Homo sapiens: one gene and its partners. The protein of the gene in region 2 purifies or fractionates together with the protein of the main gene of each other region. This does not show direct contact. Each region holds a gene or a part of one and is shown on either strand. Other genes may lie near its edges.

Region 1 (3,750 bases), on a different chromosome or scaffold from region 2:
ACCAGGGACGCTGAGGTTGCACTGAGCTGAGATCACGCCACTGCACTCCAGCCTGGGCAACAAGAGCGAAACTCTGTCTCAAAAAAAAAAAAAAAAAAGAAACACGTAAAGAGTGATGGCTCTCCGAAGGAACTGAATGTCTAGGGACAAAGGAATTACCTATGGTTTTTTGTTTTTGAGACAGTGTCTCACTCTGCCACACAGGCTGGAGTGCAGTGGCGTGATGTCAGCTCACGACAACCTGTCTCCCAGGTTCAAGCAGTTCTCCTGAGTAGCTGGGACTACAGGTGTGAACTATCATGCCCGGCTAATTTTTGTGTTTTTAGTAGAGACGGGGTTTCACCTGGCACCGGGTCTCCAACTCTTGACCTCAAGTGATCTGCCCACCTCAGCCTCCCAAAGTGCTGGGATTGCAGGCGTGAGCCCCCGGGCTCAGCTCTGGAATTTATTAAATATGTATCTATACCCTGACACTGCTGGTTACTGTCTATAATCCGAGTGTTTTGGGAGGCTGAGGCAGGAGAATTGCTTGAGGTCAGGAGTTCGAAACCAGCCTGGGCAACATAAGGAGAGCCCATCTCTTTAAAAACAAAACACACACACACACACACACACCAAACAAACCCATGTATTTACTGCAGACCTACTTTATTATGCACCGTGATGTTTCAAGTATCACAAACCATTACAAAGCAATATAATCACCCTCCTTCCCCCTTACTGCTTCAAACTATTGTGGTAAAAATAAATAAATAAAGCCCTGGCGTGGTGGCTCACGCCTGTAATGCCAGCACTTTGGGAAGCTGAAGCGGGTGGATCACCTGAGGTCAGGAGTTCGAGAGCAGCCCGGACAACATGGCGAAACCCCGTCTCTACTAAAAATACAAGTTCGCGTGGTGGCGCGCGCCTGTAATCCCAGCGCGCCACCACGCTGGGGGACGGAGTAAGACTCAGTCTCAAAGGCATGACGAAAATAGCAAAAATGCTTTAGTGTTATACCTGTTACGAATTTAATGGAAATTACAAGTAGGAGCCCATTACAATCTCTAGCCTTAAAATGCTGAAAACATACACAGTGTGACAATAAGTAAACTTCGAGACCCAATAAGGGGGAAAGTCCAACGTGGAAAGTATTTGGTAGGAGTGAAGAACAGAGTGACAACTGCTTAGTCCCACTGGATATTTCGCTCCTCTTCAGGAAGAATACTCCAGTTTGGGGAGGCCATATCCCGGGCCAGCCAGTTAAAATCGTCAACATCGTTCCAGTTATTTTTGCTCCTATCTAAACCAGAGCTCTCGAAGTCCTTGTCGATCTCCGGGTAGCTCCAGGTGTAAGGGGCGAACTGGATCCCACTGCAGTCCTCCACGATGGCCCTGCTGGTCACCTGCAGGAAGATGCGGGTGTCTTTCGTACTGTGTATGCGGAGCTGTTGGCAGGCCACTGCCAGCACGCAGTCACTGCAGTCCTCCAGGAAAACAGAGGTAGACACCGGACCGCAGAGCAGCTTGCAGCTGTGGGCCTTGGTTAGCCGCAGGGTGTTGGGATTTCCATACAGTCTGACCGTGCAGTTGCTCAGTTCGGTCAAAAGAACGTCGCGCTGGTGCAACTCGCTGGCTCTCTTCTCCAAGACTTGGGACTCCAGGTTGGAGAAACCGCAGACCCAGCTGGGGCCGAGGTCTCCTTCCGCCTTCTTGGGCAGCGGGGAGTCCTGTATGCTTTCAACTGCCGGGGGGATGCCAGGAGCCGCGTCTACTTTGGTAGACGAAGCAGCATCCTTTCCCCGGGTCTTGAAAGCGAAACGCTTCTTGGGCTGCAGCCCCCGGCGCCGCTCGGCCAAGGCCGCCTGCAGCCGCGCCAGCGCCTCTTGTCCCTGCCGCAGGTCGTAAGCGGCTAGGAAAAAAACTGAGTCGTTGATTAGTTTCTGCAGCCCCTGGAGCCGAGAGGCCGCCTCCTCCAGCCGCTCGACCGACTCCGCGCGCTCCAGAAGCTCTTCCACGGCCGCTCGCTCCCGAACAAAGGTGGCGACGAAAAAGTGGCTGTTCTCCTTCTCTACCTCCTGGTTCTGCCGCTTTTGTTTCCGCCTTTCAACTTCCAGCTGCCGTTCTTGTTCGCGTCTCTGAAGCCGCTCAGGCACCAGGCTCAGGTCCCGCTGGGACTCCATGTCTCCGGTCCTGACAGCAGCAGCGGAGCAACTGACGGACTCCATATTGGCTTCAAGCTTCCTCTCTCTTGTCTTCCTTCCTCCGGGCGCGCTGTCCGTGAGGCCTCCCACCAACGCGTCCGGTGATTGGCCTAACATGATGATGTCAGATCCCCGGCCTTATTTTCTTCGCCTATTGGTTCCTCTGCGTCGGAGGGGGCGGGGAGATGGGGCGGGGCCGACTGACTATGGGGGTGGGAAGACAAAGGTTCTTGTGGATGGGTGGGGTGGGAGGCAGGCGGGGGAATCTTTTTTTTCCTCTTAAAGGGGCAGGACTTATATCCGGGATTGTGGGGTGAGTTGCAGCAGCGGCAGCTGCACATGTGGGTTTGTTTATAAGAACAAGGTTAGAAACTCGCAGGCCTCCCCCTCCCCCCAGCTCCTCCCTACTACCCCCTTACAGGCCGGAGATCCGCTACTAGGGGTGTGGGTGGGAGGGATGAGTGCGTGTGGTGGGTTGGGGGGACAGGTAGTGGTGAGAAAGATGGAGCGGGGGGGAATATTGCACCGCCTGGCCCGCGCCGGAGGAAGCAGCAGCTGGAACAGCTGGCTGGGGAGCCGCTTGCATGCCTCCGGTTTTTTCTTTTCCCTTCCACCACCCCTTCCCCCAACCCATTTCTGCCTCCCCGTAGCCCTCATCCTTACCGCCCCCCTCCCCCCTATCCACTGCAGTTCGGCGCGGCCTGGGGGCTCCTGGATCCCCGCAGGCAGTTACTAGGGCAGGAGAAGGCAAGGGGCACTGCGATGGGAGAGACTGGGTTCCTCACTGCAACCTGGTTCGAGGGGCCCTGGGGGAGTCCATAAAAGGATTACTATTTTTTTGGCCAATTGCTGCAGTCGGAGGGGTGGGGGCGGGGGAAGGTGAGATCCACACCCCCTTCCTCTTTCTTCCCTGCCCTCCCCGAGCTCGGTCCCGGCCACTCCCTCCGCAGCTGGGCGTCGCCGGCCGCGCTGGGGTGAGACCCTAGCCCCGGGCTCCGTGGCTCTCTGGGGCGGTCGGTCTTAGGAAAGCGGTGGGAGAAGCGGTACATTATTTCTAGGGGTGGTGGGAGGGATTTGTCACCGGAAGTGAATGGCCTAGCCTAAAGTCGGGACCAACCCGAGGTGTGGGTGGGCAGCCAAGACGGCGCAGTCACTGGCAAAAACCCGAGGCAGCGGGCAGGGCGAGAACCCGAGACGCAGCCGCTGCCCGGGCGCGGCAGCCTCGCATGCTTCGCTCAGATCTGCGGAGCTCCCGAACCTCTTTAACCCTGCCCGCCCTTCCAACCCTAGGTTTCCTCCTTATATCCCCAGTTCCCAGCCTCCATCGTTTAAATTGGGGTATTTAACGACCCAAGAAACTTGAAATTTCACCGATCTACCTGCATTTTGATGCAGAGAAAGATGGGAGGAAACGCGAACCATTGAATTAAATCTGAGTTAAAACTGATCTCCCATTTTCACGCCCCACTCTCTTCCTTTCCTTCCCACTTAAAACAAACAAAACACACATAAATTGCTGGGCCAGAGTATTTCTCCGCTGAGAGCACAGTTCATACCGTGTGGCAGA
Region 2 (3,750 bases):
TCACTCCTGTAATCCCAGCACTTTGGGAGGCCGAAGGAGGTGGAGCACTTGAGGTCAGCAGTTCGAGACCAGCCTGAAAAACATGGTGAAACCCTGTCTCTACTCAAAATACACACACACACAAATTAGCCGGGCATGGTGGTGCATGCCTGTAGTCCCAGCTACTCAGAAGGCTGAGGCAGAAGAAGCGCTTGAACGCGGAAGGCAGAAGTTGCAGTGAGTGGAGATCGCAACACTGCACTCCAGCCTGGGCAACAAGAGCAAAACTCCGTCTTAAAGAGAATAAAATATGTCTAGTTTGTCTGAAATTCACCAAAATCAATTAGAGTTTTTAACTTAATATACAGATTATACATACATAGCTGTAAGTTTTTAATTTTACAAAAGAAGTTCCCAAATGGTAAATGGGTTTTTTCCTTTATGAATATTTTGTTTTCATAAATATATTAAAAGACAAAAACATATAAACACCCTCTAAGGGTGTCACCCATAAGCAGTTCTCAGAAATAGCTACTAAGCATAAATATATTATTCTCAAGAGAATATTTCTACAGAAGCATAGCCCAACATTTCCTATTAATGCATGATAAAAGTCATATTAGGAGCTAGGCGCGGTCGCTAACGCCTGTAATCCCAGCACTTTGGAAGGTCAAGGTGGGTAGATCACTTGAGGTCAGGAGTTCGAGACCAGCCTGGCCAATACGGCGAAGCCCCCGTCTCTATTAAAATTACAAAAATTAGCTGCCCTCAGGTGATCCACCCACGTCGGCCTCCCAGAAGTGCTGGAATTACATGCGTGAGCCACCGCGAACGGCCTATATGTATGTTTTTAAAAACAACTGTTTCTCTCATCTAATTTACAGAGTATTTGTAAATTGAAAATCAAAATTATGGGTACAACATCGCAATTAGCTTAACAACATGAGCAATGCTTAAGGAGTATACACGTTTAAGGGAGTGGGGGTGGAGGATGCAGCTATGAAGTTAGACCACTTGAGTTTGAATCTAGGCTTTGTCACGTTAAAACTGTGGTCTTAGGCAAGTTACTTAACCTACCTAAACCTTAGTTTCCTGGTTTGTAAAGTGGAGGCAGTAACAGTATCAACCTCAAAGGGTTATTTTGAGATAATCCGTGTAGAAACTAGCGCTCTGCCTGTCACTAGCAATTAATACATGCTACTATTGTTATCGTTATCAACTGCAACACTAACAGAAATAGCAATGCTATTAACCTCTTTGCTTAGAGGTGATAGCCACAAGCATCAGGAAGGTAAATCCACAGACAGAAGATGATAAAACGTTTTGTAAGAAAGCACGTGTTAATTTGATCACGCTTCTCACCACAAGCAACGTAAATTTTCTAGAATTATCTCTGGAACCAAAAAAGAAAGTCGAAACCTAGGACCACCTAGGTAACACCACATGCAGAGATAGTTATCGCCAGCGTGAAAGAAACACCTGCCAATCCCGGTCCACAGATGGCATTTAATAATAGACGGAATCGGTCCAATCTCAGAACTCTCCAGCCCGCAGCAAGTCTTTTTTTAAAGGGAGGAGCCACACACACAGCCTAACTCCTGCCGTTAACTCGGCCCGACTGAATAAAGGAGATAGGCTTGCCAAAGGGTTTCCAGCCACAGAAGTCCTTTTGTGGAGGGGTGCAGAAAGAGCGAGAAAGAGATGCTGGCGTTTGGAGGCCCAGGGCCTCGCTCCCGGGCGAGAGCGGGGCGCCCAGGCACCAGCCGGCGGAGGAACCTGGAAATCGCGCGCCGGGTAGAGCCGCGGCCGCTGGAACCTGGGTCGCCGCGATGTAGCCGGTCCCTCGCCCTCAGCCCGGACTCCGCAGACCGCTTCCCTTCCCCCAGCCCCCACCGCCAGGCCGGGAACGGCGGGGGCCGCACGCGCGGAGGCCGGAGGCGCGGCAGCGCTGGGCTCTCGGGGCCGGGCCAGGGGAGGCCGGCGCCCGCTCCTCTCCCGGACCCCCGCCCGGGCCCCACCGCGCCGGGCCTTACCAGAGGTCTCGCGCCGCGACAGGTGGTACACCCGGCGGAGAGGCCGCGCCCTGCCGCCCGCCCTGGCGATGCTCAGCTCCCGCGCCGCCCGGCCCTCCCCTTCTGCGAGCCTCCCGGAGCCGCCGTCAGCTCAGGCTCACACTGGCGCGGGCGGCCCCACACGCAGAGGCGGCCCGAAGAGCGGCCGAGAGAGGGGAGGGCGCGAGGAGCCGGCCAGCCGCGGGGCCCGGAAGGCGTGGCCCACGGTGGAGACGGACGGGCTCGCGGGCCAATTGGAGGCAGGAACCGGCCGGAGGGGCGGGCTCCGTCTGGAGGCTTAGCTGCCGGCGCTGGGGTTCCTGTCCTCCGCGCCTTCCTCAACCCAGCTCCTGGAGGTTACGGTTCTGAGGCGGGGCGGGCGGCCTCGTGGACGCGATGCTGAGGATGTGAGAAGTGCAGTGCGGAGGAGGAGGTGGAGCTCCGCCGCTCCATGAAGGAAGCCGGGGCTGGCCGACCGCGCCCCCCAGCACTCCTGGCCCGGGGGTCCCAGTCTCCGAACCCGCGGAGGCCAGGGAAGCTGGGAGTTGGGGTCTGTCCTGCCTGAGCCACAGAGGAAGGGGGAGAACGGGAGGGCAGGAGACGGCAAAGGAAGGAAGAAGAGGACCCAGGAAATGCGAGGCTTCCGCACTTCAGCGACGCTTTCACTTTCCGAGCTGTTTTGTGTGCTTAGGACTTGCTCTTCTGCAGAATTCTTTGCCACTCCTCATGGCTGCTGGCAAGGTTATTGGCCTGCGGTGAATTTACCAATCACCTCCACTGTCACAGTCACCATAAATAGATGCTCAATGTTCTGCCTCAGAAAAGCACCGGAACACTTAATTGTCTTGTCCTTGAAAGCCGCAGGGACCGTGCCTTCCAACATCCCTACCCCCGCCCTCCCAACGGTTGTGACATGGGAGGATATTTCTTCACCCTTATTTCAGAAAATGTTATCACCCAAAACTCTTTACTATAATGAGCTTGTGTACTCTTAAAACAAGGCATGGTAATGACAATTTCAAAAATAAGATGTAAAATATAAAAAAAGAGGCAAGGCAGAATAAAATTAAAAGTGATGGAAATGTAGGATTGAGAAGATGGAGTGGAAGTAGGGAAGAGTGAATTGCTCCCTCCTAAACTCTGACAATTAAATAAAATCTGGGGCAATCGCCCCTCTCTGAACATTGAAGGGTGGGGCCTGTGAGGAGGAAACTCCAGTTAGGTGATAATCCATAGGTGTGGTTGCTATAATAACCACCGCAGGCAAGGAGAGGTTATAAATATGAATGACCTAAAGTAACTCTGCTTGCCAGGAACTTACAAGATGCAGCAGGTTGGATGAAGGAAACTAAACATTACCAGTGTCTTTCTACATAAATGCTTCATTAGTAGAGGTGAAATTCTTTTGTCTTTGAAAGACAGTTGTGGGGGTGTTGGGGGGTAGATGGGGAATGGGGAGATGTTGGTCAAAGGGTAAAAAGTTTCAGGAGTAAGTTTTAGAAATATCGCACAGCATGGTGACTATAGTTCATAATGTATATTTCGCAATGGCTGAAAGAGTAGATTTAAAATATTCTCACCAAAAAGAAATAAGCATGTAAGGTGATGGATATATTAGCCTAATTTGATCATTCCACAATGTATTGAAACATTACATTGTATCCCATTGCATTAAAGTATATACATTTTTTTTCTTTCGAGATGGAGTCTTGCTCTGTCG
Region 3 (3,650 bases), on a different chromosome or scaffold from region 2:
GCAAGTCAGTTACGCTGTGATGCTTTCTTCTAAGTTTGAACTATTTTAAAAGTATTTTCATACGATGAAATCTAAATATCTTCAGCAACTTGAGCAGGAAACACCAGACTCTAAATTAGGTATCAGGTCAGGACTAATAGCAAGCAGAGGAAAACAATCTGAATTCATCAAGTAGTAAGACAAGCTGGATTTTAAACCAGTTCTAACGTATTATGAAATCTGGCAGCAACTTCATAACATTAACTTTATATGTAAATTTCTCTTGAGCCTTTTTCTTCCTTTATTTTAGGACGCTATCAACTAAAATATTCCTGGAAACCACTGACTGTTTTTACATTAAAGATACCAACCACTTACCAGCATGGACTGCAGGATGCAAAGTTTTCACACGTCCCCCCAACATTTCAGGAAATCCCGTCAACTCAGAGACATCTCTGAAAAACAGATAAACAGAATGGTACTACTGGTGTGGCTGAATTGTAATTTTCACTATTCAAAGCATCTACTGTTTTCATTTCAAGAGATTTTGAGCCTGAATTCAACGTGAAAATTCTGATTTTTTAAAGTATTTCACTATATTTTATTTCTTAAGTAAAATTCTATTTACTTCCGAAAAAAAGTTTATTTAATTTATTTCCTAACTGTTGTGTATGTTCAGGGATAATTGGTAACTACTACAGCACTGGTTTTATAATTTTCAGAGCATTTAGAAACTGAATCATAAGCCATACTCATTAAATATTACTAAGACATACAACTGAGAATTTGGCAGTATGTAACAAAAAGCATTAAAAATATCCTTGGCCGGGCACGGTGGCTCATGGCTGTAAACCCAGCACTTTGGAAGGCTGAGGCAGGTGGATCACCTGAGGAGGGGAGTTTGAGACCAGCCTGGCCAACATGATGAAACCCCAGCTCTACTAAAAAAATACAAAAAATTAGCCGAGCGTGATGGCGGGCACCTGTAATCCCAGCTACTGGGGAGGCTGAGGCAGGAGAATCACTTGAACCCAAGAGTTGGAGGTCGCAGTGAGCCGAGATCATGCCACTGCACTCCAGCCTGGGCGACAGAGCAAGACTCCATCTCAAAAAACAACAACAACAACACATGAAGATGGCATATCAAGTGAGTGAAGACATAAAAGACTGTTTAATAAAGTGGTGTTGCTATTGGAATAACGGGTTAAACCCAAACAAAAATATATTCCTTATGAATCAAAGGTTTAGCATTTAAAAAATCATGCATGTAGCAAAATTAAATATGTGAGGAATGCTTTCCAAGTTTTAAACAAAAGATTGAGAGTTCTGATTACAGAAATGTTAAATAAAAAGTTTTACATGGGAAAAAAAAGTAAACTAGAAAAAATAATCACACAATGTGACAAAGGGTCAAGTGAAGGACAGTAAATATTAATCCATATCACAAAGCAGACCCCTAGAAAGTCGTAACCACGAACACTCTGGCAGACTTTATAAGTTGTAATGGTGTGTAAAAATGCCCACAATATATAAGAAAAAATAAAGCAGGGGCCAGGTGGGGTGGCTCACACCTGTAATCCCAGCACTTTGGGAGGCCAAGGCGAATGGATCACCTGAGGTAAGGGAGTTCCAGACCAGCCTGACCAACATGGTGAAACCCCGCCTCTACTAAAAATACAAAATTAGCCAGGCATGGTGGGGCATGCCTATAATCCCAGCTACTTGGGAGGCTGAGGCAGGAGAATCGCTTGAACCCGGGAGGCGGAGGTTGCAGTGAGCCAAGATTGTGCCACTGCATTTCAACCTGGGCAACAACAGCAAAACTCCGTCTCAAAAAATAAATAAATACATAAAAATAAATAAAGCAGGAAGCAAAACTGCATCTATCTTCTGTGTAAGCTATGAAATAAAGTACATGCTTATAAAAATGCTTGAAGAAAAATATACTAGCATGTTAAGAATTACAATCCATTTTTACTACCTTCTTTATAGTTGTCCATATTTTCGAATTTTCTACAATCAACATATATAGTTTTTGAGATGGGATCTCACTATGTTGCCCAGCCTGGAGTACAGTGATTATTCACAGGCAAGATTACAGTCCATGGCAGCCTAGAACTCCTGGGCTTATTAAGTAATCCTCCAAGTAGCTGAGACTATAATAAACACTTTAAAGCAGCAAGTTCTGCCAGTAAGATACGGAATTTCCTGGGTAGATTCTCCTGTTAAGGGGAGCCATTTGCAAATGACTGGTGTTTGACCAATGACACACACAGTTCCAACATCCACAAACTGGTGACATAAGTGTTTTCAAATTCAAAATTTCTTTTCCTGGGGTTCAGGAAATAAAATCCATTTCCTCCAAATGAAGACAGTCACTTAAAACTTAGAGAAGGCGGATTTATTTCTAGAATTAAACATTTGGGGTAATTAAAAAGCTTGCTACTCCTTTGAACTGAAGAATTTATACATAATGGCTGTAGTCTCGGGAAATAATTCTATGTATGCTCACTGCTGTATACTCACTAATTAAAATCCATCAGTTTACCTCATGACAAGGTAATGGTTAACTTCCTGGGATAAAATTATTGCAGATAACAACACCCAAAAATATGCTCAGAAGCAGCCTCAGAACCAAGATCTTTTTTTTTTTTTTTGAGACAGTGTTTCTCTCTGTCATCCAGGCTGGAGTGTAGTGGTGGAATCTCGGCTCACTGCAACCTCCACCTCCTGGGTTCAAGCAATTCTCCTGCCTCAGCCTCCTGAGTAGCTGGGATTACAGGTGCACGCCACCACACCCGGCTGATTCTTTTTTGTATTTTTAGCAGAGATGGAGTTGCACCATGTTGGCCAGGCTGGGCTCAAACTCCTGACCTCAGATGATCCAGCAGCCTCAGCCTCCCAAAGTGCTGGGATTACAGGGGTGAGCCACTGCGCCCAGCCAGAACCAAGACCTTGTCCAGGCATGGTGGATCACACTTGTAATCCCAGCACTTTGGGAGGCCAAGGCAGGCAAAATTGCTTAAGCCCTAGAGTTCAAGACCAGACAGACAACATGGTGAAACCATCTCTATGAAAAATACAAAAATTAGTTGGGCATGCTGGTGTGCAGCTGTAGTCCCAGATACTCAGGAGGCTGAGGTGGAAGGATTGCCTCAGCCTGGGAGATCGAGGCTGCAATTAGCCATGATTGTGCCACTGCACTCCAGCCTGGGTGACAGAGTAAAACCCTCTAAAAAAATATATATATATAGCTTTCTCCTGCCCTCTTGCCTCTCACCCTTCATTCTTCCCTGAAGTCACAGAAATGAGAATTTCTCTTCCCCAGGGCAGTTTACAGAAACTAAAACTCTTTTTCCCCAAAGCCAGTCATAAGATTTAAACTTATGATTCTAACTTTCCACTGGCTTTCTGTCTAGGAGCTGGACGTAAAGAAATCCTCTCATCTCCTTGCCCATTAGTAGGTCAGGAGATCCTTAGGGGGTGGAGAAAGAATTTTAGAGAAGCCAAGAAGAATCTGGACAGACAGGCTTTCCTGGCTTTCTCCACCTCAGTCTACTAGCATACACCATATCCTTGCTGTCCAATCATACTTCCACCTTTCTGTCCATTCTTTGTTGAACCTAAACATAAAAATGGATGGTTTTTCCTCTGTCTTTGGGTCTTCATTC

What was found.
Region 1: the proteins of ME2 (region 2) and TBCC fractionate together in Homo sapiens (co-fractionation; one large-scale study listed by BioGRID). This does not show direct contact.
Region 3: the proteins of ME2 (region 2) and ATIC purify together in Homo sapiens (co-immunoprecipitation; one large-scale study listed by IntAct). This does not show direct contact.

The regions. Positions count from the first base shown.
Region 1 is NC_000006.12:42,743,867-42,747,616, forward strand, and holds TBCC (tubulin-specific chaperone C), read right to left. Parts: upstream 2,238-3,750; 5' UTR 2,208-2,237; coding exon 1,167-2,207; 3' UTR 632-1,166; downstream 1-631. UniProt on the Homo sapiens protein: Tubulin-folding protein; involved in the final step of the tubulin folding pathway.
Region 2 is NC_000018.10:50,877,571-50,881,320, reverse strand, and holds the start of ME2 (NAD-dependent malic enzyme, mitochondrial isoform 1 precursor), read right to left. Parts: upstream 2,204-3,750; 5' UTR 2,013-2,203; intron 1-2,012.
Region 3 is NC_000002.12:215,314,941-215,318,590, reverse strand, and holds part of ATIC (bifunctional purine biosynthesis protein ATIC), read right to left. Parts: intron 435-3,650; coding exon 358-434; intron 1-357. UniProt on the Homo sapiens protein: Bifunctional enzyme that catalyzes the last two steps of purine biosynthesis.